Linked DNA regions of Homo sapiens: region 2 is linked to region 1. Evidence: fine-mapped expression QTL. A gene starts in region 1. The other region holds a variant in brackets. All regions are shown on one strand. Distances are from middle to middle.

The links. PIP is the estimated chance that this variant, and not a neighbour inherited with it, causes the effect.
Region 2: its variant is fine-mapped to the expression of RAB18 in whole blood (INTERVAL, PIP 0.97).

What each region holds. Positions count from the first base shown.
Region 1 is chr10:27,497,006-27,513,691 of GRCh38, reverse strand. RAB18 (RAB18, member RAS oncogene family) reads right to left here and starts at 9,388. Exons shown (of 7, transcript NM_021252.5): 1 at 9,255-9,388; 2 at 3,762-3,817. The coding sequence starts at 9,322. It overlaps LOC124902399 (a long non-coding RNA gene), which reads right to left and starts at 9,247. Exons shown (of 2, transcript XR_007062097.1): 1 at 8,968-9,247; 2 at 8,600-8,713. RefSeq lists enhancers at 9,253-9,312, 9,423-9,692.
Region 2 is chr10:27,554,568-27,571,253 of GRCh38, reverse strand. It overlaps LINC02680 (long intergenic non-protein coding RNA 2680), which reads right to left and starts at 5,067. Exons shown (of 3, transcript XR_007062094.1): 1 at 4,317-5,067; 2 at 1,321-1,467. The variant T/G (reference allele first, on the strand shown) is at 9,017.

The sequences.
Region 1 (16,686 bases):
CACTGCTCCTGGCAACATTTCCACCTATTTTGTGGCTTGGGGTTTTTAACTGTCTTCTAGTTTAGTGGAATGCTGGGTTTGTGTGTCAGTTTTTCCCTCTCTTTGTTGTTTTTAGCTAATTGCCAAGAAAGAAGAATGCTAACTTTATAGTACCATCTGCAAATCCCAAATCCAACAATTATCTTAAAAGAGTATTTTATGCAAGACAGAAACTTAAGTGTCTCACTAAGTTACTAAAAGGTAACAATACACTTTCCTTACTACTATTTTACTGTGGGGTAAAATACCAATTTTCATAAAACACTAATTTTCACAAGGCCATTAAGTAATTGTTTTTATGTTTAAAACTCATGTGTGGGCTGGGCGTGGTGGCTCACACCTGTAATCCTAGCACTTTGGGAGGCTGAGGCGGGTGGATCACTTGAGGTCAGGAGTTCAAGACCAGCCTGGCCAATATAGTAAAACCCCATCTCTACTAAAAACATAAAAATTAGCAAGGCATGGTGGCACACACCTGCAATCCCAGCTTCTTGGGAGGCTGAGGCAGAAGAATCACTTGAACCTGGGAGGCGGAGATTGCAGTGAGCTGAGATCATGCACCACTGCACTCCGGCCTGGGCAACACAGCGAGACTCTTGTCTCCAAAAAAAAAAAAAAAATATATATATATATATATGTTATTACCTAAGGCTGAAAGTAATCTGATGCTTCAATGTAAAAGATATTTTGTTCAACATATTCAAGATCTAGGGCCTATTTGGGGAACAAATTACATATATTTTCACCAGCATACTATAATCTTAGTATTTGTCTTTGCAGAAGACAAAGCCTTTTTAGTAATAAAGACAACCCACGATTTGTCATGCCACAAGTCCCCAAATTCCATTTGGGTTTGTAATGAAGACAGTTAATATTATATGTATGTTCATTCCTTCAGTAAAATTTTAACTTTAGGCAAGTTTATTTTCCTGCCAGTTGCTACTGCTCTCCTCCTGGCTAGCCAATACCAATACGTACTCAGGCAGGTTCTGACCAAAATAAGGTTTTACTACTAAGTAATTTTTTATAGGAGTAAATAATACACCAGTATGGGCACAGTGGCTCACACCTATAATCTCAACACTTTGGGAGGCCCAAGGTGGGTGGATCACTTGAGGCCAGGAGTTCAAGACCAGACTGGCCAACATAGCAAAACCCATCTCTACTAAAAATACAAAAATTAGCCAGGTGTGGTGGTGCATGCCTGTAGTCCCAGCTACACAGGAGGCTGAGGCACCAGAATCACTTGAATGGGGAGGTGGAGGCTGCAGTGAGCCAAGGTTGTGCCACTTCACTCCAGCCTGGGCAACAGAGCAAGACTGTGTCTAAAAATAAATAAATAAAATTAAATAATAATAATTATTATTATAATACAACAAAGCCAAATTACAATGGATTTTGAATTCGTGTTTTAAATGATTCCCTTTCCTATGACACAAATAAGAGTAAATCTGTAAATCTTAATATCATGCAAAAGCTAAGTAATGCCTAATTTATTGAAAATTTAGAGGCACCATGAGTTCATATGAAGAAAAAGAAACAAACAAACATGAGCTCCTCCTGAGCTGGGCATGGTGGTACATGGCTGTAGTTCCAGCTACTTGGGAGGCTGAGGCAGGAGGATCACTTGAGCCCAGGAGTCTCAGGCCAGCCTGGGCAACACAGTGAGACACTGCCTCACAAAAAAAGAAAAAAAAAGAGCTCTTACTTACAGAATTCCAAACAAGATACATAGACAGAGTGATGGCATTTTAAAAAAATCCCCATTTGATAACCATCACAGTTGGAATGAAAAGATCATATACTGTCCTTATCACTTGTCACAGGCAAGAATTATCAATGGATGCTACAACAGGAGGGCAAAAAGTGTAAGAAGGAGGATACCTATACAGTCTCAATGTATCTCTCTACAAGAAATATATTAGTTATGAAGGGAAAAATAATAACTTCACTGACACTATGTTCTGAAAAACACTTCTGTGGAATTGCTGCCAAAACTGCATAACCTGAATCTAACCGTTAAGGACATACTGGACATACACAAATTGAGAGACATTCTACAAAATAATTATTTACTCTTCAAAAATGTCAAGGCCCTGAAAAGGCAAATAAAGACTGAAGAATTGCTGATTAAAAGAGGCTGAAGAGGCTCGACGCGGTGGCTCACACCTGCAATCCCAGTACTTTGGGAGGCCGAGGTGGGTAGATCACTTGAGGTCAGGAGCTCAAGACCAGCCTGGCCAACATGGTAAACCCCGTCTCTATCAAAAATACAAAAAAAAATTAGCCAGGCGCAGTGGCATGTGCCTGTAGTCCCAGCTACTTGGGTGGCTGAGGCAGGAGGATCACTTGAACCTGAAAAGTGGAGGTTGCACTGAGCTGAGTTGGTGCCACTGCACTCAGCCTGAGCGACAGAGCTAGACTCTGTCTCGAAAATAAATTAATTCATTAATTAAATGAAATAAAAGAGGCTAAAGAGAAATAACTAAAATCAGTGTATGATCCTGGACCCGAAACAATTATTTGTCTTTTGCTATATGGGACATTAATGGGACAACTGATAAAATCTGTGTATAGACAATAAAATGTATCTATGTTCATTTAAGAAATACACATTAAAGTATGCAGACGTTGAAGACATCATGTCTACAATCTACTCTCATTTTTTTAAAAAAGAATACTGTGTGTAGAGAGAGAATGATAAAGCAAATGTGACAAACATTAACATCTGGAGTAATTTAATAGGATACATAAGAATTATTTGTGCTATTTTTACAAATCTTTGAGTCTGAAATTGTTTCACAATAAAATTTTAAAAATAGACATACAATCAATGAAAACAAATAAAGCCAGTTAACAGAAACTCTTTATTTTCCCTAACAATAATGCTAGGATCATCTTTACTATATTCTCCTCATCAGATCATGAAATTTTAACAAAACCTCCCAATTTACAGATGAAGTTAGTAAGTTAAGTGACTTCATCAAGATTACATGTAATTCAAGGCAAAGTCAACCAAGACTATTATCTAGCTCTGACTCAGCTCAGCTACCTTTCAACTATTCCAAGTGGTCTCTTCATCCCTTTACGTTGTCTGCAGTCTAAACACATGATACCAAAATACTTACCTCTATCTTCTCATATATTCTCATAAGTTAGTGTGACTAACCACTTTCAGGCGATCTAAATCTTATCCTTAAAAGGCATTTAAGTATCATTGCTCCTAACAATCCTTAATAACTAGTATCAATACATATGTGAAGATAAGAATACACGTCAAACACTGTAGCAAATGCTGAACATACAAAATTAACACACTCTGTTAGGTCCACGATGACAGAGACCAAGTTTGTTATTCACTATTATAACCCCTCCTCTTAGTAGCAGTCCCTGGCATACAATAAGTATTCAAATAACTGTTGTATATTACAAAATAAAAGACAATCCATAGTATAGGAGAGAAATGTGTGTACAGATAATCACATTAGCAGTTTTAATAAAGTATCATGAGACAACAGATAAGGAAGTTATTTTCTCTTGGTAAGATCTAGAAAGGCTTCAAAGATTTAATGATACCAAAATTAAGTCTTGAAGGACAAATAAGATTTCAACAGACATGGAGGCAGTGGGGTGGTGAGAGGAAGGTAGAAGGATTTAGATTAAAAAGGCCAAAGGCAAGAAAATACTGGCCATTTCTATAGAATTTTTAAACACAGGCTTACCTATTGTTGCTGCAAGTTCTGGATCAAACGTATCATCTGTGAACCTCAAGAGCAGGCTGAAAGAGATATTAAAAAGACAGGTTGGGAACTTGAATTTTCTAATCATATGATAAATGTGTTCATGATTATTTGGTCACAAATTATTAGATGCAGATAAAAATAACTGATGTAGGCCTGTTCCTAGGAATACTGCCTCAGAGCAGGTATACACAGAAAAATTAAATTACCAGAAAGGCAATTTAAAAATCCCAAGAGCAAAGTAGTTTACTATGAAATATATTCCCCGTGCTCTCCTACACAATCCCCCAAGTACAAAAGGTGGGGGTTTTTGTTGTAGTTGTTTTTTAACTGTTCTGGTATGTCCTTCTGAGAAAATGATATTAGCAGCATGTCATGCTTTAACTGACATAGATGAAAAGGGAAAAAATAAAGTCTCTTAGAATGCAACAAACTAGCTTTAAAAAATCTGATTGTGTAATCCACTCTGAATTCAAGCAAAACCAGAAATATATCAAAGCCGAGCATTCTGTAACACGCAGTACGGCTACTACCTAAGAGAAGATACAGTAAAAAGAGAGGTTAAAAGAAAGATCACAGGACAGAGTAGATAGACTCGGGCAAACACTAGGTAGAGTGTGTAAAACCAAGTAGGCAACTGGAGGCTACTGGAGGCTTTTAAAGAAAGTTAAGACAAGTACTGCTCTTTGTTTTGAAAAGTTAATACTAACAAAAAATGGAAGAAAATCAATGGAAGACAACCGCCATGGTTATGGCAAGAGAGAACAAAGGACTAAACCTAGGAAATGGTAAGAAACTAGAAAGAAAGGATAAAAGCAAAAGACACCAGATTAGAAGGGTACTCTAAGATTTTACATCTTCCAGAATTATTTTACTTACTATGAAGCAGAAGTGTCAGTTATTAGAAACTCTTCAAAAATAAAATCTAAGCTTTTGTTAAAGCCCTTGATTTTAAAGTCATTCAATCTTCCCTCATGTTAACTTCTGAAGTATAAGACTCTCCTAATTGACCTGTTTGCATGAATAAAATCAAAGAAACAGCCATCAGATATCTAAATTATAGAAAAATCTTATGACTCTTTCTATAGGTTGTGATTATTGCTGGTAGAGGTATGTTTTGTCCATAGAGTTTCTGCAAAACATAATGGCCTCCTGGTAGTTTCCAAACCCAGTGTCATTAAATATATTTGAACGATTAACTCTCCCTTACTTGGTTTTGTTTTCTTGTGTTTACCATAAAACCAGCATCATAAAATCAAAGTAAAAAAGAAGAGTCAAATTCTAGATTTATCTACTTAACATCTTGACTATATTTAGTTACTTGGAACATAGGTAACAATACTAGTAAGACTCTTAAAGACTACCTATAAAATTTTTCTTCTCTCCCAACATACTCAGTTACCCATAATTTAAGAAAAGATACATAATATCTACACGTGGTCACCACAGAAAATATTACTACAAAAACATAAGATTACCTTGTAGACTAGTTGTAATAATATCATAATAATAATACAATAATGATGATATTGGGTATTATTTATTGAACATATGGCAATGTGCAGACACAAAGCCAGAGGTTTTTCTCTCATAATTGCTAATCCTTAAATGGCCTTTGTTATTAACAGTACTTTGTAAGGAGAGGCAGGGAATTGGTGGCATGGTGTGAAGCAACAAATTTTAATACAGGCTCTGGGTATACATCAGATCTTAGACAGGGGTACCCTGGTAGCCCAAAAAGTATTCTAAATTCTATGTGTGCATTTTTCTAGGCAGAGAGTCCATTTCTCTATTAGACTTTGAAAGGGACAGAGAGTCCATTTCTCTATTAGATTTTGAAAAGAACTGACAATCTCAAAATAATTAAGAAGCACACTTTTTTTTTTTTTTTTTTAAGAGAGAGGGTCTCACTCTGTCACCCAGGCTGGAATGCAGTGGCAGAATCACAGCTCACTAATCCTCCCACCTTAGCCCCCCAAGTAACTGGCATGACAGGTGTGCATCACCATGGCCGGCTAATTTTTTTATTTTTATTTTTTTAGAGGCATGGTCTCGTTATGTTGCCCAAGCTGGTCTCGGACTCCTGGCCTCAAGAGATCCTCCTGTCTCAGCCTCCCGAGTAGCTAGGATTACAGGATGAGCCACTGCACCTGGCAGAAGCACCATTCTTATAGTATTGTATATTTACACCCTCATATTTTCAAAGTTAAAGGAGCAAAATGTTTCCCATGCAGAAGTAGAGATGGAAGGAGTAACTACCACCATGGCACTTAGATGTGACCAAATTTATAATAAACAGAGTGTGATTATAACTAATCTGCATTTTTTAAATTTACATATGAAATTCACCAAAAAAAAAAAAAAAAGGGAAGGCAAGGGGCAAAGGAGGGACAGCAATTTAGATAATAGGTCTCTCTAATCCCTTCCAGTTCTTGATATATTCTGCTACTCTTTACCTTACCAGGCCTAGCCACAGAATTGGAGTCTTACACATTTAGGGTCTGAGAGGTTTCTATTCCAACCCCCTCGCTTTTGAAATGAAGGCCTACAGCATTCAAGTATCACACACAAGGTCACACAAGTGGCAGCCCCAGTTTCATAATCCTGATCTCCTGACTACTATCACATACCCTTTAGACTCTAACACTATGAAATCACTAGAAAGTAATCCACTAATTCGGATTAAACATATCCTTTGTTTTCCCCAACAGCACAAGTGCTATCTCACTTCCACTAGCTCCAGCTCTGTAATGAAATAGAAACAAACTTGGTTAAAACAATCCTTTAAGATCATATCCACAGCAAATGTTTTTGTACTAATTCACTTTAAAAGGCATAGACTTCTATTTCAGTGGAGTCATTTATTCTCATCTTATCCAGAGTGTTTAAGATTGTTTTCCACAGCATATCACACAGGCCAATAATGTATATCTAGCTAGACAAATAAGACAACTTTCTCACTATATGTAATCCTTTCACAAAAGAAATAAAGTGACAAAATCCTGCATCGAGCAGTTGATAATCCATTGCTACGTATTGAGGAAAAAGTTTAAAACAGATTAGGCCCACGGTAAATTTGTTTCTTTGTTTCGGTGGCATGAACTAGGGAGACTGATAAATCCACTTAACAGGCCTTACTCTACAAGGAGAACCTCGGTTGGGTGTCATGCCTTGTGTCTGTAATCCCAGCACTTTAGGAGTATGAGGCAGGAGTTTGGCTTGAGCCTGTGTGTTGGAGACCACCTGGGCAACATAGGAAAATCCCATCTATGAAAAAAATTTTAGAAGTAGGGCCGGTTGTGGTGGCTCATGCTTATGTTCCTAGCACTTTGGGAGGTCAAGGCAGGAGGATCTGTTGAGCTCAGGAGTTCGAGACAGCCTGGGCAACACAGTGAGTCCTCCTCTCTATAAAAAATAAAAAAACACTAGTCAGACATGGTGACTCGTGCCTATAGTCCAGCTACTCAAAAGGCTGAGGTGGGAGGATCACTTGAGCCCAGGAGATTGAGACTGCAGTGAGCTATGATCATGCCACTGCACTCCAGTCTGGGTGACAGAATAAGACCCTGTCTCAAAAAAACAGCGGGTAGAGCAGAGGAATTTTGTTTATATACTCCAGTTAACCTTCCAGAAAATTTTAACATACCCTAACTTGTCATCCATGCAATACATTTAGAAAAAGTGCTAACCAACCATGTATTGGGTTGAACTACATGAAATGACAACCAACCATTCTTGACTTCAAAAACACTAATTTCATATGCCTGAACTTAAATGAGAACGATATCTCAAGGAAAAAAGGAGAAAAGAAAAAGAAAGATCACAAGGCTGTGAAATTCCTATTAAGACAACGTTTAACTTTTTAACACTCAAATATGTATGTGCAATAATAGATGATCATGTAAATAATTTTACTCATGCCTTTTACACACACACAGACAAATCATGCTGGTTTGCTAACTCATAGTATTTCATTATTCTATTCCTTGGTATGTGCAAATCCTTCATTCCAGTAGACACAGAGGACATTACATGAGGAACACTATGAAAATGTGTTGTCAAACTGGTGGCTCACGCCTGTAATCCTAGCACTTTGGGAGGCCGAGGTGGGCGGGTCACGAGGTCAAAAGATGGAGACCATCCTGGCCAACATGGTGAAACCCCATCTCTACTAACAGTACAAAAGTTAGCTGGGCATGATAGTGCGCGCCTGTAGTCCCAGCTACTCGGGAGGCTGAAGCAGGAGAATCGCTTGAACCCGGGAGGCGGAGGTTGCAGTGACCCGAGATCGCGCCACTGCACTCCAGCCTGGCAACAGAGCGAGACTCCGTCTCAAAAAATAAATAAATAAATAAGTAAATAATATCAGAATATATTACATAAGCTTTCAAATTCTGAAGAAGCTTTTAAAAAGTAAGACTTTATGAAGTGACTTTTACAAGTTATTTGAGGAGAGCTTTCATTCTAGTTTGTAGAATTAAGGCTATTTCAATTTATGAAATACAAAAAATTATTTGAAAGATACGTGTATCAGAAGGTATAGCTAAAATATGAAACTGATTACAGCCCCTGGAGTGCAAATGTGGTTTAAGGATCAGGACGGCCTTGAACATAACCTACTCATAATCAGATGGCAAGAATGACATCAGCTGGAGAACTCTCTTCCAAGACCTGGATGAAATCACAGCCCTCTAGCAACATCCACCTAGATCCATGTCTTACCTTATACTCAACTCCACTGTCAATATTATTTTCCCCAAGGAAAAAGTAAAAAATGAAAGCACAACACTAATCTTCTGTCTCCACAGGATGTGGCAAAATGAGAAATAACAATTACATTTTATTTTCAAAGGTGGCCCACGGCTGAAGCACTCGGACCTTACACTAAAGCGAAATTTTCCAGCAGTCACAAGATCCAGTTCTTTCACAGCCGACTAATAAAAAAGTAAAAGAATCGACATTAAGCTGCGCCCAAACAGGCCAGGAATGGGACCTAAGGCGTCACGAAACTTCCCGAGGACATTATGTATTTAGAGAAGGCCCCACAGAAACCCTCAAGTGGGAAAGCTATGTCTCCCGGGTCTCGGGGTGGCAGGCAGCCTGAACCCCGAGAGGTTCGAGGCAAGGCGCCCCCGGCCGGATTCGGGCCCAAACCAGCCCGCCACGCCCTGAGCTCCGCGCAGCAAACCTGCCGGCCGAGCGGCGGCCCTCGGAATGGTGTTTTCTCGGCGCTACAGGAGGGAGAGCGACCCAGAGAACTTGGGCCTGGCAAAGGCCGGGAACCAGGCAGGCGCGGGTGGGGAGAGGAAAGCAAACGTCGCGGGAGAGCGCGGCCCAGAGGCCGAGGAGGGCGCGAGCGGAGCCGGCCCGAGCCCGCCGCTGCAGTTTACAGTTCCCGTCGCGGCCCAGGAGACAGCAGCCACCGGGGCAGAAAGAGCCCAGCCACCCTCGTCACGACCCGCACCTCCGCCTCACCTGGACTTGCCCACCCCACTCTCGCCGATGATGAGGATCTTCAGGGTGGTTAGCACGTCCTCGTCCATCCTGACCCCGTTCCGCTCCGAGCCCAGCTGGCCGCCCGGGTGCGCCTCTCAGCCCTTCAGCAGAGTGAGCTGCTGCGCATGCGCGCCGCTCCACGTCTGCCACCTTCCTTTCACACCGGGTGTTCAGGCTGCCGAAGCCCTGGACTCCCCAGTTCCGCCTTGAGGTAGCTCCACGGCTGCGCGACCCAGAATCCCCGGCGTTTTTCCGGACTGCGTGTTCCTCCCCTGCGCAAGCGCAGGTGGGGAGCGCTGTGTGTGACTTTGTTGGCTTCTTCTTGAGGTCTAGCTCCGCCCCAGCCTCAACCTAACCCTCCTTTTGAGTCAGTGGGAGGACTCAGTCAGGAGAATATCAAGCTGTTTTATTTCGGCAGCTGCTCATAACAGCTGCACTGCGGTGGGAAAAGCACTGTGCTTGAAGCAGATTATCTTAAATTTAGGTCCAGCTCTACCTTATAACTGCCTTGTCATACTACCCAGCTTTCTTAGCCTTTCTCCATCTCTGAGAGACACAGTAACACTTCTTAGAACATCTGCTTCTTATTGTTATGAAGGTTAAGTGAGTTAATTTGTGAAGACATGTTGTTAACCAAAGTGCTCTATAAAAGGTGTGATCAGGTATTATCTTGCTGGCTTCCCCTCTGTTATAGTGGAGAGCACCCTCTGCACCCTAATTCATCTTGAAAGGGAGGCGTAGACTTCAGGTAGGTCAGGTGCATTACTTCTGGCGGTGCAACTTCAAGTCAACTCTCCTTCCTCATAAGAACTGCTACACCCATACTGCAGGAAGTGTATGTCTACACCTTGCCTCCTGCATTAAGTTGTAAATCTTAGTGAAGGTACCAAACCTCATTCATAATACTTAGCACAGTGCCTGGTACATGGCAGGCACTCAATAAACCTCAGTTCTCTTGTCTTATTTCCTTATACCTGCAGCTAATGTCATATACAATGGATATTTGATTAAAGACTACATATAAATAAAATTTCAAATGTTAAGAAATTAATTTGTTAAATAGCTGGAAAAGCCCTTTCAAAAGATATCCCAATGGCTTCTCCTCCTTCAGGTCTTCGCTCAAATGTTGCATTCTTAAAGAGGCCTTCCCTGTCCATTCTACTGAAATATGCAAATCCCTCCAGCATTCTCTAGACCTCTTTACATTGTTTTTCTGCATAGGATTTAACCACTCTCTGATACACTATATATTTTACTACTTTATTAGAAGTCTCATGAAGGCAAGGATATTTTGTTTTGTCTACTGGTATGTCTTCAGTATCTAGAGTACTTCATGGCACATAATATGTGCTAAATAAATGTATGCTGAATGAATTAATTGAATGAATGTTGTAGAGTCCATTCCTAACCTTAGAGAATAATGTCAATGAAACAACCTCCACTTCTCATCAGATAGCCCTTGAAACTTCAGTCAAGTCTATCTAGCTTACTTTTCATTATGACAAAAAGATCTTATTTATGAGGTTCACAGTATTGTCAAGCTCTCCTGCCCTGGGGTCCCGAGATCCCTAGAAATCCCTGAAAACCTTTCAGGGGGGTTGCAAGATCAAACTATTTTCATAGTTAATATGTTATTTTTTCATGCACATTCTCTGATGATAATATAATGGAGTTTTCCAGAGGCTATATATTAATAACATGTAATAGCAAAACAGATTGAAGGCAGAACAAGATATGTGAACTTACTGGTTTTCTATGATATTAAGCCAGATATTAAAGGGATTTCCTAAAATGTAAAACATTGCCACTGTTCTCAATTTTGTTCTGTTTTAAAGTAGTTATTTTCATAAACATTTCTATTAACTGGTAATAGGTTTATTATTGTTTTTAAGTAAATTAACATGTTTGAAATTTTCTCAGTTTTAATTTCTAGTAGGATAAATAAGAGATGTAATCTCTTTGGGGTTCTTACAATCAAAAGCTCTTTCAGGTCCTCAATGATTTTTAAGAGTATACTATAATTTGTACAACCAAAAAGTGTGAGAACCATTGCACTGTGCTATTCACACCAAGATAAATACAAAAACAAAAACTTCATCAATAAATCCAGGGCTATCTCTTGCAACCTGTAATACTGTTGACGTACTTTGGCAATATCATTTTCTCTTGGATTTCCTCCATCTCTTGGCCATTTCCTCTCTTTCTTTTTCTTTTCTTTTCTTTTCTTTTTTTTTAAGAGATGGGATATTGCTATGCTGCCCAGGGTGGTCTCTAACTTCTGAGCTCAAGAAGTAATCCTCCTACCTCAGCCTTTGAGTAGCTGGAACTGCAGGCATGCATCACCACGCCTAACTAATTTTTAAAACATTTTTTTAGAGATGGGGTCTTGCTATGTTGCTGGTCTCAAACTGCTGGGCTCAAGCAATCCCCCTGCCTCGGCCTCCCGAATTTACATCTCTGGCTGAGATTTTTCTCCTGAGGTTCAGGCCAACATACACAACTGCCAAGACATCCCCACATGGGGGCTGGCAATAAAGAGATGTACTTAAAAGACACAATGAATAACTGTCCCATGCTTAGTGAAGAAGAGGGGAAAGAAAAGGGAAAGAAAAACATCGAACATTTCTCTAATGTTTCAAGCCTCGGCACTACCAATCTGAGAGAAAACCCAAGACAGAAACAAGAAGGAATATGAGTTTCGTTTCAGCCATAGTGAATTTTATGTAAAGGTGAGCCTTGAAGGCAAAATTTTTCAGACCTCTTTTAGAGCAGTGGTTCCAAGATTCAGGACAGATAGCAAGACACTAAAAAAATGAACCAAGGAGATGGCCTAGGTGTTCTAACCAACAATTTGGCCTAGGTGTTCTCTTCTATATACTATTATCCTTACATCCCTGGAAAACACAGCCAAATCCTTTCTTAGGTTTCAGACATAACTGACTGCCCTTTTCCCTGTGGATCCATCTTCTAGTATTAATTATTTTTACCATATCCAAATATATGATCACCTCATAAAGGAATGTCTATGGCAATATTCTTAATACCTGAAGTTTGGGATGAGCAATGAGCAAGCCCAGTATGTAGGAAGAAATTGAAATGGCGAAACCACTTGGAGATGTGATGGAGAAGGCCCATCCCATGTTGCTGTCAGTAACATGCCTACAGTGGGCAGCCCCAGAGATAGACAACAGATGAGAGAAAAAAACAGATTCAGGCCTTTGACTTTTCTCCATCCTTCGGCATCAGTAATGAAGATAAGAGAAATGCTGCTTGCAGAACTCACATTCTGTGAACAGGTACCAACATGAGCACTGTGACTCATGGCTTATGTAGGACTGCTTGGGTCCAAGTGTAACAGGCGTCTGTGGCTAGAGTTTAGGAGTTGGTAGTGAGAGAAGTCATACAGCATTGCCACCTCCGCCCCCAGCTCCATTGCCCCTGGCTGAGCTGAGGTTCCGAAACAACCCCCACCCTCTCCAGGTACTGCTTCTCCTTGCCTCGGTTGATATGCACAGGAGCTTTGGTATGCAGTCAAGGAAGAGATTACTTTTTGTTGTTGTTGTTGTTGTCGTTAGAGATAGGGTTTCACTATGTTTCCCAGGCTGGACTCAAACTCCTGGGCTCAAAAGATCCTCTTTCCTTAGCCTCCCAAGTGGCTGGGACTACAGGCACATTATACCATGCCTGGTTTAAAGAGGAGTTCATTTCGTTGTTTAATTATTTGGGTGAAGGCTTGGGGATTTGAGAGAAGGGTTAGAAGTAAATTCTGTGGAAAAGGTAGCTGAAATGTCATTTTGACCACTTGGGTGGGGTTTTAGCCCTATGATTAGAGGGGTCAGGGTCAAGAGCTGGAGTAGCTACTTTAGGCTTGCAGCCTGACACAAGCAACTCTGTCTGAGGGCCCGTGGGACAGGATAGCTGGGGCTGAGAAGAAGGTCATTGCACTATTTTTTCCATTTGACCCAAGACCCTTTTCCAACCTTCTCTGTTACAATCTATATAATATCACCTTCTACCAAGGAACTTATTTTACAGCAGAAGTGTGGCTGTGGGCTCAGGCATGCCCTTGGACTTCACTGGTGTTGTCACCAGACCCCACTTCAGGAAGCAGCTAGTATGATAGACAATGGGATGGCCCATTGCCCACTCAGTTAAGGTGGCAGCAGGGAGATAATATTCTGTAAGGTTGCACTGCTGCTCTATAGGATGTAGTAAAAACTTTAAACCTGCAACCTACAAATGATGCTGTTTTCCTAATAAAATTCACAGTCAATGAGGAGCATCTGACCTCCTGGATCATTACATGTTTCTCTTATGTGACTCCCACCCTGGCCCTAGCACTTAGTGGGCTATGGTAACATTATTTTCTGCCTTTGCTTCCTCAGATCTAGGGTGGAAAAGGCTGCCTACTGAAGTTAATTTCTGGGTTCCTCACTTTTTGGTGGCCCTAACCTGGCCATGCTGCTGTAAATAGTCTTTTGGTTATACTCTCTTGAGATATCTGAGTTAGATTTTCTTTCTTGCTGGGACCCTGACTAACCATTCTATTCATTTATTCATTGACCTGAGCACCTAAAGCTCACTTCCTTGGAAGAATTAAGAGATAGCATCTTTGGCACAAATATTAGTGTTTTCAGGAAAGTTACCATCAGCAATGATGATGAAACTTTTTTTTTTTTTTGAGACAGTCTCGCTCTGTCACCCAGGCTGGAGTTCAGTGGCACCATCTTGGCTTACTGCAAGCTCCACCTCCCGGGTTCTCGCCATTCTCCTGCCTCAGCCTCCCGGGTAGCTAGGACTACAGGCATCCGCCACCATGCCCAGCTAATTTTTTGTATTTTTAGTAGAGATGGGGTTTCACCATGTTAGCCAGGATGGTCTCAATCTCCTGACCTCATGATCCGCCCGTCTTGGCCTCCCAAAGTGCTGGGATTACAGGCGTGAGCCACCGGGCCCAGCCAGTGAAACTTTTTTAAGAGGCGGTTTCTCGCTAATTCCCAGGCTGGAGTGCAGTGGCTCTTCACAGGTATGATCATAAAGCACTGCAGCCTCTAATTCCTGGGCTCAAAGGATCCTCCCACCTTAGCCTCCCCAGGAGCTGGGACTGTAGGTGCATGCCACCATACCCAACTCTGATTACACAACTTTAAGAGGCTTTGTGGGCAAAAGGCATCAATCCATGATAGCATGAGCAGGAGGAAAAGATGGCAGAGTCGATATGATAAAAGCCTGGCACCCACATAAATAGTCAACTGATCTTTGACAAGGGGCAAAGGCGATACAATGGATAAAAAATAATCTTCTCAACAAATGGTGCTGGAAAAACTGGAGAGCCACATATGAAAAAATGCATCTAGAAACAGACCTTACGCTTTTCACAAAAATGAACTCAAAATGGATTACAGACCTAATGTGTGACACAAAACTATAAAGCTCCTAGAAGGTATCATAGGAGAAAATCTAGATAACCTTGAGTATGGCAATGACATTTTAGATACAACACTGAAGACGTTTCATGATCCGTGAAAGAAACTGATAAGCTGGACATAATTAAAACTTTAAAAATTTTCTCTGAGAAAGACAATGTTAAAAGAATGAGAAGACACCTCTGCCAAAAGACTGCTATCCAAATGTACAAAAAAACCTTAAAACTCAATAATATGAATACTAACAATCCGACCAAAAACTGGACCAAAGACCTTAAGAGATACCTCACCAAAAAAGATATACAGATGGCAAAAAAGCATATGAAAAGATGCTCCAAATCATATGTCATTGGGGAAATAAAAAGAAAACAATGAGATACCACTATACACCTATTAGGATGGCCAACATCCAGAACACTGACAACACCAAATGCTGAGTAGGATATGGAGCAACAGGAACTCTGATTCATTGCTGGTGGAAATGCAGAATGGTACAGCAACTTTGGAAGTCAGTTTGATGGTTCCTTATACTACTACATATACAGACTCTTACCATGTAATTCAGCATGCAATTCAGTTCTCCTTGGTATTTGCCGAAAGAAGTTTAAAATTTATGTTTTAACTTTTTTAACACAGAAACCTGCCCTCATATGTTTATAGCAGTTTTATTCACAATTGCCAAAACTTGGAAGCAACCACGATATCCTTCAGTAGGAAAATGGATATGTGAACTGTGTTCGAGCCAGAGAATGGAATATTATTCAGCATGGAAAAGAAATGAACTAACAAGTCATAAAAAGACATGGAGGAAACTTAAATGCATATTACTCAGTGAAAGAAGCCAATCTAAAAAGTCTGCATATTATATAATCCCAAATATATTACATTCTGGAAAAGGTACAACTATAGACACAGTAAAAAGATCAGTGGTTGCTAGAAGTTAGTAGGGAGGAAGGGATGAATAGGCATAGAATAAAGGATTTTTTAGGTCAGTGAAACCACTTTCCATGATACTGTAATAGTGGATACATACCATATACATTTATTCAAACCCATAAAATGTACAACAGCAAGAGTAAGCCCTAATATATACTATGTTCTTTGGTGATAATGATGTGTCAGTGTAGCTCCATAAATTGTAACAAATATAACACTCTGAGGGGGAAGGAGTTTTTTTTTTTATTTGAGATGGAGTCTCGCTCTGTCACCCAGGCTGGAGTGCAGTGGCGTGATCTCAGCTCACTGCAAGCTCCACCTCCCGGGTTCATGCCATTCTCCTGCCTCGGCCTCCTGAGTAGCTGGGACTACAGGCACCCGCCACCACGCCTGGCTAATGTTTGTGTGTGTGTGTGTGTATTTTTAGTAGAGACGGGGTTTCACCGTGTTAGCCAGGATGGTCTCGATCTCCTGACCTTGTGGTCCACCCGCCTCAGCCTCCCAAAGTGCTGGGATTACAGGGGTGAGTCACAGTGCCTGGCCTACTGTCTATTGTCTTTGTCTAATTTTGATATTTTATGCTGACCTCATAAAATTAGTTGGGAAGTCTTTTCTTTACTATTTTCTAAAAGAGATTTTGGAAAATTGACCTAAATTCAAACTTAACTCTTCCTTAAGTGTTTGTAAAATTTACCAGTGAAGGCATCTGGGCCTGGTGCTTTATTTTTTGAAAGGTTATTTGTTATTGATTTAATTTCTTTAGAAGTTGCATGGAATTGGTTTTATTCCTTCTTTATATGTTTGGTAGAATTTACCAGCAAAACTATTTGAGCCTGGAGATTTCTTTTTCAGAAAATTTTCAACGGAGAATTAATGATTTACAATAGTCACAAGACTATTGAATTATCTATTTTATCTTGCTCAGTTTTGGCAGTTTGTGTGTTTTAGAAATTATTCTTGTTCAACTAAGCTGTCAAATTTATGTGAGTGAAGCTGTTTATTATCTTTTTAAAGTATGCAGGGTATGTAGTGATTTCCCCTATTTCTTT
Region 2 (16,686 bases), 58 kb before region 1:
CTTTAACTACATTTGTCCTATTTTTAATAATATCTGAAGTAAATAAGGCAAGTGTTAAGATGTGTTAAATCTGGATCTTAAGCACCTAAGTGTTTGCTATTTTCTATATGTCTGAATTATTTCATAATTTTTAAAAAATTTGTAAAAGAAAAATTGTGTTGCAATCAAGAGCATACATGAAATAATGTTTATTCTGTGAAATTATTTATCATATACTGTCTACTCCTCCTCCTCCTCCTCCTTCTTCTTCTTCCTCTTATTCTTCTTCCTCTTTCTTCCTCTGAGTCAGGGTCTTACTCCATCGCCCAGGCTAGAGTGCAGTGGCACGATCACAACTCTCTACCACCTCAACCTCCCAGGCCCAAGTGATCCTCCCACCTCAGCCTCCCAAGTAGCTGGGACTACAGGCTCACTCCACCGCGGCTGGGTAATTTTTGTATTTTTTGTAGAGATGGGGTCTTGCCATGTTACTCAGGCTGGTCTTGAACCCTTGGGCTCAAGTGATCTTCCTGCCTCAGCCTCTCAAATAGCTGGGACTACAGGTGCATGCCACCACATGGGCTAATTTTTGATTTTTGTAGAGATGGGGTCTCCCTATGTTATTCAGACTGGTCTCGAACTCCTGGGCTCAAGCGATCCTCCCTCCTCAGCCTCCCAGAGTGCTGAGATTACAGGCATGAGCCACCACACCCAGCCCTTCTGTCTTGTTAAGTATTACAAAATGAAATGTCAGCTGGCCTCCCTCCACAATGGAATGACCTTGCTAGGACTTGACACCACTTCCCACTGCTCCTCTATCTGTTCTTTTGCTTCTCTGCCCTTTCTTCAGAGCACAACGTTTTGGAGAGTATATTGGCCAGATCAACAAAAACAACATTAAAAAGTACTCTGTTTCTGATGTTGAGTAAACATGACATCTTTGGCTGATAAGTTTTTAATTCTATCAACAGCTCAGGTTGAATATATTAAATTTGGGCTCTATCATCAGATTTTACAGCTTGAGAAGGAGGCATCTGATAATATACACAGAAAAGCAGGCCATCTGTCAAACATGAAAGCTACACAGGATGCATTGTGCAGCAGCGGGGCTGCCCCGCTCTACAGCTAAGCAGCAAAGCTCTGCCATGTGGTTCCCATCAAAGACCTCAAATGGGAATTTCACATCATAATCTAAAGAGACGACCCTCGATTAAATGCAGGCCCAACACATATACATGTCAGGATTTGGTAGAGGTATTTCTATTGCATAACATATGTAGTCATTTCTGGTACATAAATTGGATTTTTACAGGCCTGTACAGACTCCACAAAGAACCTTACCTTTTTTTCACACTCTTTCTGACAATACTTTGTATAGATGTTGACATTTATCCTTTGAGTTGCAGTAATTGGGTAGTGTGGCTTTTACATTCCTGTAAGGTGGCTTTGAGATACTAGCAGGGAGGAGCAGGAATGAGCCAAGACCAGCTGGAAAAGAGAACGTACGGGCTCAGTAAGAATGCTTATCATTGTGAGAGTATGGAGATAGGGGAAAGTAGGAAGACCAACAGGGAAAGGGTAGAGGAACAATTAGAGACTCTAATGTTCAAACCTAAGATGCCTCATCCTCAGTGCTCCTGAGACCACCCACTGCTGTGCCCCACCAGCTCAAAAAGAGACACACACCTCAGAATAATGGTCTCCCCCAAATGGTCACATCTGTATCCCCAGAACCAGTGAATCTCACATGGCAAAAGGGATTTTGCAAAATCGATTTAGTTAAGGATCTGGTTTGGCTGTGTCCCCACCCAAATCTCATCTTGAACTGTAGCTTCCATAATTCCCACGTGTTGTAGGAGGGACCCCGTGGGAGATAATTGAATCACAGGGGTGGTTTCCCCCATACTGTTCTCGTGGTACTGAGTAAGTCTCACAAGATCTGATGATTTTATAAGCGGTTTCCCTTTTCACTTGGCACTCTCTCATTCTCTTGTCTGCTGCCATGTAAGACATGCCTTTCACCTTCTGCCGTGATTGTGAGGCCTCCCCAGACATGTGGAACTGTGAGTCCATTAAACCTCTTTTTCTTTATAAATTACCCAGGTATGTCTTTATAAATTACTTTATAAATTACCCAGGTATTTCTTTATAAATTACTCAGGTATGTCTTTATCAGCAGCGTGAGAGTAGACTAATACAGTTAAGGACCTCGAGATGGAGATATTACCCTGGATTATCTGGATAGGGCCAATGTATTCACAAGGGTCCTTGCAAGAGAGGGGCAGGAGGATCTTACTCAGAGAAGGGGATGTGATGACAGAAGCAGAGATTAGAGGAAGAGAGAGATCTGAAGACAGTGCTGCTGGTTTTGAAGCTGGAGGAAGAGACCCTAGCCAAGGAATGTGGGCGGCCTCTAGAAGCCCACAACAGCAAGGAAGTAGACCTTCCCCTTGAGATTCCAGAAAAATGCAGCCCTGTCAACACCTTGATTTTAGAACTTCTAACTTCCTGAACTATAAGACAATACATCTGTGTTGTTTCAAGCCACTAAGTCTGTGGTTACTTGTTTGGTAACAACAGGAAACTAACACATGTCTCCATCCCTGGTGAGAAGTTACTGACTTATGACTCCATTCCCTCAACTCTTGATAGCCCTTCCAGTTCTCAAAGTTCATGTTTCTGTGATTACAAACTAGGGGACCATGTGGAAACGTTGTTCTTTTTTCTTTCAATATGTTGACAGTACATTCCTCTAAACAAATTACGAGTCCTGATTTGAAAGATTCAGAGACAAAAACGCTGGGGCCACAGAAATGAGGTAACTTCACACATGAATTGCAGCTGATAAAAAAAAAAATAGCAGACCTGCACCCACAAGACAAGGTACCACTTCCCTAGAGGGAAGCTCAGCTTCATGCACATCCTCTGTGACCCTCCCTGTATAACCTTGGAATCCACATTCACTTCCAGGAATCCAAGCACTTTCAACTTACGGAGGGAATACCTTTCACTTAAAAGTACTGAAATGGTAATCTTCCCTCATCAATATAAACACACATCTAAGAATCACCAGATAGCTGAGAAAATAACAATGTGAAAAAGAATTAACACATGAGGAAACAGAATTTACAAAGGAAACAAGAGAAGACTGCAAAATAATCATTAGTATCCTCAGAGAAAGGAGAAGCTATCACAACAAGAAAAAGTTTCTTTGAAAAAGTGATCAGAGTGGTTGGAAAATAGAAATGATTGTCATCCCCCAACTCCACAGATAAATCTCAATCTGTGGGCTAAGATACAGAAAGGAAATATGTGAAGATTAAAGTGGCGACCTGGAAATGCAAGCTGAGTGATCCTCCAGGATACAGTGCAAAATAAGAAGTAATAAAGTGATGGGGAAAAGGTTAAGAGACAAAGAAAATAGAGAACACAAGTCCACTGAAACCCTAGCAGAAGTTGTGAGGAGAAACTCATAGCAGATACATCTTACTGAAATTTTTGATGAGAATAAAGAAGTTTTCACTACATGTTCTCACTTATAAGTGGGAGCTGAACAATGAGAGCACATGGACACAGGGAGGGGAACAACACACAATGGGGCCTGCCGGCGGTTGCAGGGCCAGAGAGAGCCCCAGGAAAAATAGTTAATGCATGCTGGGCTTAATACCTAGATGAGGGGTTGACAGGTGCAGCAAACCACCATAGCACACATTTACCTATTAACAAACTTGCACGTCCTGCACATGTATCCCAGAACTTAAAATAAAATAAAAAGAATAAAGAAGTTTTCTTGTTACTGATTTCTATTTTGATTCTGTTAAAGTCTGAAAAAATACTCTGTAAGATTTTATTACTAGAAATGTATTCAGACTTGTTTCATGGCTCAGGATATGATACATTTTGGTGAACATTCCATATGCTTTTAAGAATAATGTGGGCAACATGGTGAGACCTCATCTCTACAAAAAATAAAAATTGTCTGGCATGGTGGTACGCACCTGTATTCCTAGCTACTTGGGAGGCTGAGGCAGGAGGATTGCTTGAGCCCAGGAGTTTGAGACTGCAGTGAGCAATCATCATGCCACTGCAATCTAGCCTAGGCAACAGAGCAAGACCTTGTTTTTAAAAAAAACAAAAAGAAGAATGCATATTTTGCAGCTGTTGAGATAATGTTCTATAAAAGAGGTTTATTATGAGAATTAAGTGGATTAATGTGTGTGAAATGACATAATAACATTGAAATATCTCAATAAGCACTAGCTGTTATTTTGCTATTGAAAAACAGTTTTCTTTTTTTAAAGTAAGATAAAAATAGATATCTGATATTCCATATTTACCCACATATTTACCACTTGGGTGTTCTTCATTGCTTTCTGTAATGAAGTTTCCATCTGTCATTACCGTACCCTGAGCTTTCAGCTTTAGATTTGTAGTGTTGATGAGCTGGCAAAAAAAAAAAAAAAAAAAAATCTCTCAGCTTTCATTGATCACAAAATTTCTTCATTCTCTTTTGAATGATATTCTAGATGGATATGATATTCTGGGCAAGCAAATTTTTTTCATCTCAACACATTTAATATGTTGTTCCATTATCTCTGGGCTCCACTGCTCAAATGAGATATAAGACACCATCTGTATCCTTGTTCCTTTGGCTATTTTCAAAATTTTCTCTCTAGCTTTTGATTTTACCTTCAGTTCACTCATCTTCAGTTCATGCTAGTTTCTTTTGCCATCTCTAGTCTACTGGCTAAACCCACCCAGAAAACATTTCATTTCAGATACAGTACTTTTCATTTCTGGAATTTCCATTTGATTTCTTTTATCCATTTCTCCAATAAAATTATAAGTTTGTTTAGTCATTGTGGTCATTTCCCTTTAAGTCTTTGAAGATGACCATAATAGCTCCTTCCAAGATTTTGTCTGGTAATTCAAATATCTCAGCGTTTGTTTGTCTTGACTATGGATTCCATGTTCTTGTTTGTTCACCTTTCTAGTGAATTTCAATTGTGTAAAAGATTAACCTATGCCATGGTTTGAATGTGTCCCCTAAAGTTCATGTATTGGAAACTTGATCCCCAATGTGGAGGTGGTGGGAGATGGGACCTTTAAGAGGTGTTTAGTTTGTAAAAGCTCTGCCCTCATAAATGGATTAATGCCATTATTGTGAGAGTAGGTTTATTATCACAGGAGTGGGTTTCTTTTCTTTTCTTTTTTTTCTTTTCTTTTTTTTTTTTAGATGGAGTCTCACTCTGTTGCCCAGGCTGGAATGCAGTGGTGTGACCTCAGCTCACTGCAACCTCCGCCTCCTGGGTTCAAGCAATTCTCCTGCCTCATCCTCCTGAGTAGCTGGAATTACAGGTGCATGCCACCATGCCTGGCTAATTTTTGTATTTTTCGTAGAGATGAGGTTTCACCATGTTGGCCGGGCTGGTCTTGAACTCCTGACCTCAGGTGATCTGCCTGCCTCAGCCTCCCAAAGTGCTGGGATTACAGGCATGAGCCACTGCGCCAGCCTAGGAGTGGGTTTCTTATAAAAGGATGAGTTTTGTCCCCTCTTGCTGTCTCTCTCATCCATATGATGTATTCCACCACATTATGATGCATAAGAAGGCCGTCACCAGATGCTAGTACTTTATATTGGACTTCTCGACCTCCAGAACTATAAGCCAATAAATGTCTGTTCATTATAAATTACCCAGTCTGTGGTATTCTGTTTTAGCAGCACAAAATGGACTAAGCCTCTTATGAGCTACTCATCTATTACCAAGGATTATTATTTTTGCCTTTTAGAAAAATACACTACTAACAATGTAATAGTTAGACTGAATGATGGAAGGTCAGATTCAGAGAGATCCATTAGAGAATGTTAATGTTACAGATTACAGTGGTAATGGAGAAGTTCAGGTTTTAACGAAGACCTGAACTAAGGATAAGGAACTCTATTTATGTATGCCAAGATGTGGAAAATAATCTAAATGTCCATTGACAGATGAATGGATAAAGAAAATATATGCAAACAATGAAGTATTATTCAGCCTTAGAAAAGAAGGAAATCCTACAGTATGAGACAACATGGATGAATGTGGAGGACATTACACTATGTGAAATAAGGTAGTCACAGGACAACAAATACTTTTTTAGATGCTTCATATAAGTGGTTCCACTTACATGAAGTATCTAAAAATAGCCAAAGCCAAACCCGTACAGAGAGTAAGAAGACTGGTTGCCAGAGGCTGGCGGCGGGGAGGGGGAAATGGGGAGTTGATATTCATTGGGTATAAAGATTTAGTTATACAAGATGAATAAGTTCCAGACATCTGCTGTACAATTAAATGTCTATAGCTAATACTTAAAAGTTTGTTGAAAGAATAGGTCTCATGTTAAATGCTATTACTACAATTTTTAAAAAGAGAAATGCTAGAAATCAAAAACACTGTAAGAGAAATGAAGAGCCTTTGATGACCTTGTTAGTAGACTGAATATGACTGAGGATAGAATCACTAAGTTTGAGGAAATGTCAATAGAAATATTCAAATTGGAAAAACAGAAAACGAAGAAGTGAGAAAGGAACAGAAGAGATTAAGTGAAGCAATAATCATTGAGAATTTTGCTCAAATAAATGTCAGACACCAAACCACAAATCCAGGAAGCTGAGAGGGCACCAAGCAGGATAAATCTCTCTCTCTCTTTCTTTCTCTTTCTCTTTCTCTTTCTCTCTGTCTCTCTTTCTCTCTCACACACACACACAGACACACACACACACATACCCTACATGTAGGCATATCATATTCAAACTGAAGAAAAATCAAAGATAAAGTGTTTCAAGAAGGCAAAAGAAAAAAAAACACTTTATCTCTAGAGGAGCAAAGATAAGAATTACATGTGATGTCTCCTCAGCAAGTAGGCAAGCAAGAATAGAGTGAAGGGAAGTGTTTAAAGTTTTGAGATAAAAGGCCACCAACCTAGAATACTGTACCCTGAGAAATTATTCAAAAGTGAAGGAGAAATGAACTTTCTCAAACAAACAAAAATCAAATTTGTTGCCAGTAGACCTGCCTTGCAAGAAATGTTGAAGCATGTTCTTCAAAGAGGAGGAAACTGATACAGGTCAGAAACTCAGATCTACATAAAGAAAAGATTAGCACTGGAAAATGAATAAGATATGGTTGGACAAAAACTTTTACTTTTCTTATTACTCAGTTTTCTAACCAATAAATGTTCAAAATAATAATAGAGGCTGGGTGCAGTGGCTAACACCTGTAATTCTAGCACTTTGGAAGGCTGAGGTGGGAGGATCTCTTGAACCCAAGAGTTTGGGACCAGTCTGGGCAACACAATGAGACCCTGTCTCTACAACAACACAAAATTAGCCTGGCATGGTGGTATGCACCTGTAGTGCTACTCAGGAGGTTGAGGCAGGAGGACTGTTTGAGCCCCAGAGGTCAAGGCTGCAGTGAGCCATTATTACAATATTGCACTCCAGCTGGGCAACAGAGCAAGACCCTGCCTCAAAATAATAATAATAATTGAAGGGTATGGTGGTATATGTCTGTGGCCTCAGCTACTTGGGAGGCTAAGAGTGTCACTTAAGCCCAGCAGCTTGAGGCTGCAGTGAGCCATGATCACACCACTGCACTTCAGCCTAGGCAACAGAGTGAGACTCTGTCTCAAAATAAGAATAATAGTAATAAAAACAATGTCTTTTATTATCTATGCTTATATATATATATATGTATGTTTATGTAACTTTACGTATAAGTGATAACTTTAAAAAATGGGCCCATTTCTTTGAAATTTCACAATCTAACAAAACTCACAAAAGAAGAAATACTTTGACTAGGCGTATATCTATTAAAGAAAGTAAATCAATAATTAATAACCTTCCAAAACAGGAAGCACCAGACCCAGATGGGTTCACTGGTGAATCTACCAAATATTGAGGAAGAAATTATGGCAATTTTCTACAATCTCTTCCAAAAGACAGAAGCAGAGGGAATATTTCCTAACTCATTCTATGAGGCCAACATTACCTTAATACGAAAACTAGATGAAGACATTATTAAGAAAGAAGACTACAGATCAATATCTCTCATGAACAAAAATCCCCAATAAAATATTAACAAAAAGAATGCAACAATGTATAAAAAGATTACACACTATGACCAAGTGAGATTTATCTAAGGTGTGCAAGGTAGTTTCAACATTCAAAAATTAATTAGTGTAATTCCATCACACCAATAGGCTGAAGAAAAATTACATGATCACACAAATAGATGCAGAAAAAGCATTTAATAAAATCCTACATGCATTCATGATAAACCATTCAGAAAACTAGTAATAGAAGGAAACTTCTCAACTTGATAAGAAGAAATCTCCAAAAACCTACAGCTAACATCATAGTTAATAGCAAGAAACTAGAAGTTTTCCCACTAAAATCATGAAAAAGGTAAGGCTCTCCTCTCACTACTCCTTTTCAACATCATACTGGTAGTCCTAGTTAATACAATGAGACCAGAAAAGGAAATAAAATGTATACAGATTGAGAAAGAAGAAATAAAACTATGGTTGTTTTCAGATGACATGATTGTATATGTAGAAAATCTGAATGAATTGACAAAAAAAAAACCGCCTAGAACTAATAAGAAATTATAGCAAGGTTACAGGATACAGGCTAACATACAAATGTCAATCATGTCTCAGTGGTATAGTGGTGAGCAGAGCTGCCTTCCAAATATCAACCATTTTCCTATATAACAGCAAGGAACATGTGGAATTTGAAATTAAAAACACATTATTACTCACATTAGCACCACCAAAAATGAAATACTTAGCTGTAAATCTAACAAAATCTGTATAATATCTATATGAGAGAAACTACAGAATTCTGTGAAAGAAATCAAAGAACAAAATAAATGGAGAGATATTCCATGTTCATGGATACAAAAAAATTAATGGTTTCAAAATGTCAGTTTTTCTAACTTGATCTATAAATCTAATACAATTCCAAAATCCCAAAGGCAAAAGACCCAGAAGGGCC[T/G]TCTCAATATTGAAGAACAAAGTCAGAGGATGGCCACTATCTGACTTGAAGACTTTGATCTTTGACAAAAGAATAAAGGCAATACAATGAAGCAAAGAAAGTCTTTTCAAGAAATGTTGCTGGAACAATTGGAAATCCACATGCAAAAGAAAGTCAATCTAGATAGACATAACACCCCTAACTAACTTAACTGAAAATGGATTATAAACCTAAATGTAAAATGCAAAACTATAAAACTTCTAGAAGCTAATACAGGGGAAAACCTAGATGACCTTGGGATGGCGACGACTTTATAAATTCAATACCTAAGGCATGATCCATGAAAGAAATAATTGGTAAGCTGGACTTCATTAAAATTAAATTTTCTTCTCTGCAGAAGACAAGTCAATAGAATAAAAAGAAAAGCTACAGATTGGGAAATAATATTTGCAAAAGACATTATCAGATAAAGAACTGTTATTCAAAATACACAAAGAACTCTTAAAACTCAACAATAAGAAGGCAAATAACCCAACTAAAAAAGACTTTAACTGACGACTCACCAAAGAAGACACAAGAATGGTAAATAAGCATATAAAAAGATGCTCAACAACATATGTCACTAGAGAATTGCAAATTAAAACAACAACAAGCTAACACGACACATCTATTTGAATTGCCAAAACCCAAAATGCTGACAACATCATATGCTGGTGAGGATGTGAAGCAACTGGAATTAGCATTCATTGCTAGTGGGCATGCAAAAAGCCACTTTGTAAAAGCTTGGCAGTCTCAGGGATTCTCCCAAATGAATTGAGAACTTACATCCATGCAAAAACCTGTATGCACAAGTTCATGACAGCTTTATTTATGATTGCCAAAACTTGGAAGCAAATAAGATGTCCCTCAGTAGATGAGCAGAAATACAAATGGGTATAGACAGAGAATAAAATGTTCTTCAGTGCTAAAATAGAAGTGAATGATTTAAGTCACTAAAAGACATGGGGGAAACTTAGTGCATATTACTAAGTGAAATAAGCCAATCTGAAAATCCTACATATTGTAATGATTTCAATTATACAACATTCAGGAAAAGGCAAAACTATGGATATGATAAAAATATCAGTGATTGGCCAGGCATGGTGGCTCATGCCTATAATCCCAGCACTTTGGGAGGCCAAGGTGGGCGGATCATGAGGTCAGGAGATCGAAGGCATCCTGGCCAACCTGGTGAAACCCTGCCTCTACCAAAAAAAAAAAAAAAAACAAAAATTAGCCAGGCGTGGTGGGGTATGCCTGTAGTCCCAGCTACTCAGGACACTGAGGTAGGAGAATGGCTTGAACCTGGGAGGCGGAGGTTGTAGTGAGCCGAGATCTTGCCACTGCACTTCAGCCTGGTGACAGAGCAAGACTCTGTCTCAAAAAAATATATATATACATATATATATATATATATATATATATATATATATATATATATATATACACACACACACACACACACACACATATATATATATACACATATATATATATATATATATACACATATATATATATATATATATATATATATATATAATCAGTGATTGCCAGGTCTTAAAGGAGAGGGTGGGATGAATAGACACAGATAATTTTTTTTTTGAGATGGAGTTTCATTCTTGTTGCCCTGGCTGGACTGCAATGGCACAATCTCAGCTCACTGAAACCTCTGCCTCCTGGGTTCAAGCGATTCTCCTGCCTCAGCCTCCTGAGTAGCTGGGATTACAGGCCCCCACCACCATGCCCGGCTAATTTTGTATCTTTAGTAGAGACAGGGTTTCACCTTGTTGGTCAGGCTGGTTTCGAACTCCTGACCTCGGGTGATCTGCCTGCCTCAGCCTCCCAAAGTTCTGGGATTACAGGCGTGAGCCACCACGCCCAGCCCACAGAGAATTTTAGGGCAGTAAAACTACTCTGTATGATACCACAATGGTAGATACATGTCATTGAACACTTGTCAAAACTCACAGAATGTACAACACCGAGAGTGAACTCTAATGTAAACTATGGACTTTGTTGATAATCACGCATCTCTATAGGTTCATTGATGGTAACAAAGGCACTTCTCTGGTGTAGGTTGTTGATAATGGAGAGGCTGTGCATGTGTGATGGCAGAGGATATATGGGAATTCTGTTCTTCCTGATCAATTTTGCTGTAAACAAGAAACTACTCTAAAAACAGTCTATTTGTGAAAAAGTACAGAATGGAATTAATCACTCTAGGAGAAAAATTAAGAAAATAGAAACAACAACAATAAAAATGTAGACTATCACTAGAACCAAGATTTTTGAAGTGGTAAGTGTGATCAATAATGTTAGCAGAGGCCAGGCACGGTGGCTCATGCCTGTAATCCCAGCACTTTGGGAGGCGAGGCAGGCGGATCAGTAGGTCAAGAGATTGAGACCATCCTGGCCAACATGGTGAAACCCTGTCTCGACTAAAAACACAAAAATTAGCTGGGAGTGGTGGCGCACACCTGTAGTCCCAGCTACTCGGGAGGCTGAGGCAGGAGAACCGCTTGAACCCGGGAGGCAGAGGTGGCAGTGAGCTGAGATCGCGCCACTGCACTGCAGCCTGGTGAAAGAGCAAGACTCCGTCTCAAAAAAAAAAAAAAAAAAAGAATGTTAGCAGAAAAAGGGCTTCTGAACGTTCTAAAAATGACTTTAACATTACAGACATATACTTAGATCAAGTATGTCTATCATTACTCATCCAGAATAGCGTAATTTAAGCAAAGAAAGGCAGAGAAAGAGGGACAGTGCCAGGTTCTGATGAAGAATACAATGAAAGGATTGTCTTATAATTTGAAACATTTGGAGAAGGAAGCCTATTAGAATTAAATGTATTCAATATATTAGAGTCAAAATCATCAAACAATTTAGTTTTAAAAGTTTGATGGAAAATGAAGCGCAATTTTAAATTCTTTATTTTAACTGAGTGCTTCCAGAAAACAGTTTTCTCTCTCACAAAAGGAAACACAGTATAATCTCTAAAATGGTTTTAAAGGAAAAATATAAAAATATATAAATAAGTAATCTTAAAACCCTAAATTGGCTCAGTTTTATAAAACACTGGTAGCATCCTCATTTTATCTGTAATGCCTCTACTCAACCCCCTAAAACTTCTCTATAAAAAGATAAATGTATGCTATAGAAAGGAAGCAATTCTCTCCTCCAAAATTGCAAGATCGGTTATGCTTCCATGTCCTCCACCTCCAGCTAAGTCAATCTCTGTGGCTGCTAAACTATAATTTGGCCCCAGGACTGCTGTGAAATCTGTCTGTTGACCAGTATAAGCAGTCCATCTTACAACAGGAAGGCCCAGATATAATCAAAAGGTGATTTGTTGCTGAATTTTCTCAAAAAGAAAATAAAAGAAACAAAGTCACAGAGGAAACCTGGCCAAAGAAAGTACAGCCTGTGAAAATTCTCAGCTGGACAGTGCCTAAGGCGTCTTTGAACTTGACCTTCACCACAGGGTCTCTCATGTTACTGAGGAGCTGCTGCCACCTCATGGAGAACTGAGAGATCTCATTTTCCAAGCGCGTGGGTTTCTAATAGCCAAATGATCTTTGTCAAAATAAAGGTAATGCAATGAAGCAAAGAAAGTCTTTTCAACAAATGTTGCTGGAACAATTGGAAATTCACATGCAAAAGAAAACCAATCTAGATAGACAAAACAATCATTTTCTAGGTGCATGGATTCCGGAATCACTCATTTATATCTTGCCTTTTCTCTTTTGTTGGACTATTAAAAAGAAAGCATAACAACCACATGAATCTCACATAGACAAGCCCATTCTCGTTGGGCGCAATTCTCCTAATTCAATTTTTGATAACCATAGTATTATATAGCACATGCATATGAAATAAATATCATCTCATTTTGAGTGATTACTGCGTGGATTTAGATCTATCATCAGTCAAATTATGTTCCACAAACTGACTGCAGAGAAATAACCTAACACCGACAGGCTACAATTCTGCCCTGAATGTACACTTTACAAAGCTAATAGCTAAATTGCAAAATTTAGAGAATAACAAAATTTAAAAGGGTCTTGATGCTCCTTTTCCACCTTCCCTGCAACATCCTCACTGAAAATCAAAAGATCTTTCCTTCTTGTTTTTTGTATTATTGTCTCTCAACTTTTTTTTGTTTTGTTTGTTTGTTTGAGACGGTGTATCGCTCTGTCGCCCAGGCGGGAGTGCAGTGGCGCGATCTCAGGTCACCGCAACCTCCGCTTCCCGAGTTCAAGCGATTCTCCTGCCTCAGCCTCCGGAGTAGCTGGGACTACAGGCGCACGCCACTACGCCCGGCTAATTTTTGTATTTTTAGTAGAGACGGGGTTTCGCCATGTTGGCCAGGCTGGTCTCAAACTCCTGACCTCAAGGATCTGCCCGCGTCGGCCTCCCAAAGTGCAGGATTACAGGGGTGAGCCACCACGCTCCGCCGTCTCTCAACTTTCAAGTTCTATCTTAAGCCACGTGACCCGAGCAATAGAAATGGGCAAGTATTTCTAGCTTGGTGCAGTGTTTCATGCCTGTAATACCAACACTTGAGAAGTCCAAGGTGGGAGAATCCCTTAAGGCTGGGAGTTCAATATCATTCTGGGCAACATAGCAAGACCTCGGCTCTACAAAAAAAAAAAAAAAAAAAATGCGGGAGGTCAAGGCTGCAGTGAGCTATGATTGTGCCATTGCACTCCAGCCTGGCCGACAAAAGTGAGACCTTGTCTCAATTCTTCAAAATAATGAAGAAGAAGACATGGGCAAGCGCAAGAACTAAAATAAAATTATAAATTCATTTCCAAGGAGCTTTTATATCTTACTCGCAGAGAAAAACCGTGTTGGGTGTTTTTGTAGAAGTGCCATTGTGTGGATTTTGATCTAGAAAAAATTACCTCAAAGTGTAAAATGTAATTTTTATGAATGATATTCTTCACTGGAGACAGAATGGGATTTCTAATAATCGCATCTTCATCATTTGAAACTTGGTGAGTTTTGGCATTTCCATGGTTTTTGTTTGTTTGTTTTTAATGCTTTAAGCAGGTACTACTGTCCCCCAGGAAATTTGTAGATAAAAGCAAGTTATTTACAAATTTGTTCGCCTACTTTTGATCCCACCCCAGCTCTGTACTCTGGGCTCACACTTCAACAAATCTTAGTAAAGTTTAAAAACAAATCTGAATTTCCATATTTGTATTTCACATGTCCTTCAAATATTTAGAAAGTTGGAAGAGAAAATCTGAAAGTAAAATGTCTGCTTTCAATTTCTTCACCACGGTGAGTTTACATAGAAACTTAAGGAACCTCCAAAAATAAGTTATAAAATAATAGGTTATACCACATAAATGTGCATAGATGCGCACACACACACACAGACACACACAGTAGGACTTCAATGGGTGTTTATCATATTACTCTTTACAATGTATCTACGTAACCTATATTCTTTTATAAAGATGAAAATTTTATTAAAAATGAAATAAAAAAGACATGATTGTAAGATTATCGTATTAGACACAATTCAAGGCTGAAACTAATTAAACAAGGAAAAGAGGGAATATTATGTAGTGGCAAAAGATGCAATGATAAAGAATATACACATTGTATTTCTTCATGAACTAAATAACATAAAGCTAAAAATTCCAAAACTATAAGAATGTGATAAAATCATCTGTCATGATAATAACCTTAATACAACTCTTTCAGAATTTGACAAAGTACACAAAGTTACAATGTTATAGAAGATGTGAATAATCTGTGTTTTACTTAATACGCATATCTGTATAAAACGTTGTATTCCACAAATCCTATAAATTAAACTTCTTATATGTATGAAGTAGCTTTAAAAATCAGTCAAGGCCGGGCGCGGTGGCTCACACCTGGAATCCCAGCACTTTGGGAGACCGAGGCGGGTGGATCACCTGAGGTCAGGAGTTCGAGACCAGCCTGGCCAACATGGCAAAACCCCATCTCTACTAAAAATACAAAAATTAGCGGGGGGTGGTGGTGGGCACCTGTAGTCCCAGCTACTCAGAAGGCTGAGGCAGAAGAATTGCTTGAACCCGGGAGGTGGAGGTTATAGTGAGCTGAGATTGCACCACTGCACTCCAGCCTGGGTGACAGAGCGAGACTCCGTCCCACCCAAAAAAAAAAAAAAAAAAAATTCAGACAAAATTCCAACTCTATTTGTTAGCTTTGTGACCTTGGAAAAGTTCTTTAATCTTTCTAAATTCCTGTTTCCGTCTCTGTAAAATAAAAACTGTCACACTTACTCACTGGACTTTTGCGAAGGTTTAAATGATTAATAGGAGTAAAAGCCAAGCATGGGACCTAGCACTTACAAAACAGTAAATAACAGTGTTTTTTCTTTCTGTTATCGTATTTCTTCCTGGTCGTCATCTTCTCCAACTTGAATGCTAAGTACTTTTCACTCCTTCTTCATATCACACCTCTCTATTACTTCGAAAAATTTTAGATGCCACAAACTGGGCTACCCAACATACTCCAACATCATTGCAGCTTCGAATCAGAGTCAGGCGGTTTTATAGACCAGCATGTCCAATGAACTGGTCTTGCCCTTAGCCGCGCTGTATTATCCAACTATAAGTCTAAAATAAGTAATCACAAAATATTAACAAGCCAGTCAGAAAAAAAAAAACAAACTGAATTCTTGGCCACGAAGAAAACCTTAATGAATTTCAAAAAATAGAGAGATTTTGTCTCACGTTTTCTAACCATAATTGGATTATAAACTAGAAGTTTACAACAAGAAGGAAAATAATAGCCTAAAGGCAGAATAATATGAAATTAAGGCATACTCTTCAAAATAGTTCCTATCCAAAGAGGTACTTAAAACTGATATTACAGTCTGGGCAAGATGGCTCATGTTTGGAATCCCAGCACTTTGGGAGGTCAAGGCAGGAGGATTGCTTAGGACCAGGAGTTTGAAACCAGCCTGGACAACATGGTGAAACCTCATCTCTACAAAAAATTAAAAATTAGCCAGGTGTGGTGGCACAAGACTGTAAGCCCAGCTATTCGGGAGGCTGAGATGGGAGATCACTTGAGCCCGGAAGGTAGAGGCTGTAGTGAGCCATAATTGTGCCATTGCATTCAGCCTAAACAACAGAGTGAGACCCTGTCTCAAAAAAACAAAAAACAAAAAAACACCGATATTACGAATAAAAAGAATACTTGATATAAAAATATCTAGGCATAGGTAAACTCTATACTACAGTAGGAAATATCTTAAATGCTTCTATTACTAAAAAGAAAAACTAACAATAAATGAAGTAAGCCAACTAATGAACTTTCTAAAAATTACGATAAATCAAAAGAAAATCATAGAGAATGAAAAATCAAGGATATTGACCAACCAATCACACTTCTGGCCACACAGTATCTGTACACAATTGTTCATAGCAGCTTTATTTGTAATAGTCAAGAACAGAAAACAATCAAAGTGTCCTATGACAGGTGAATGATTAAATCTATCTGTGGAACATACATGCCTTGAAATACTACTGAGCAATAAAAAACAAGTTGTTGATATGCCCGACAACTTGCATTAATATCATGAGCATTATGCCAAGTGGAAAAAGCTAATCTTAAAAGATCGAATGCTGGCTGGGCACACTGGCTCA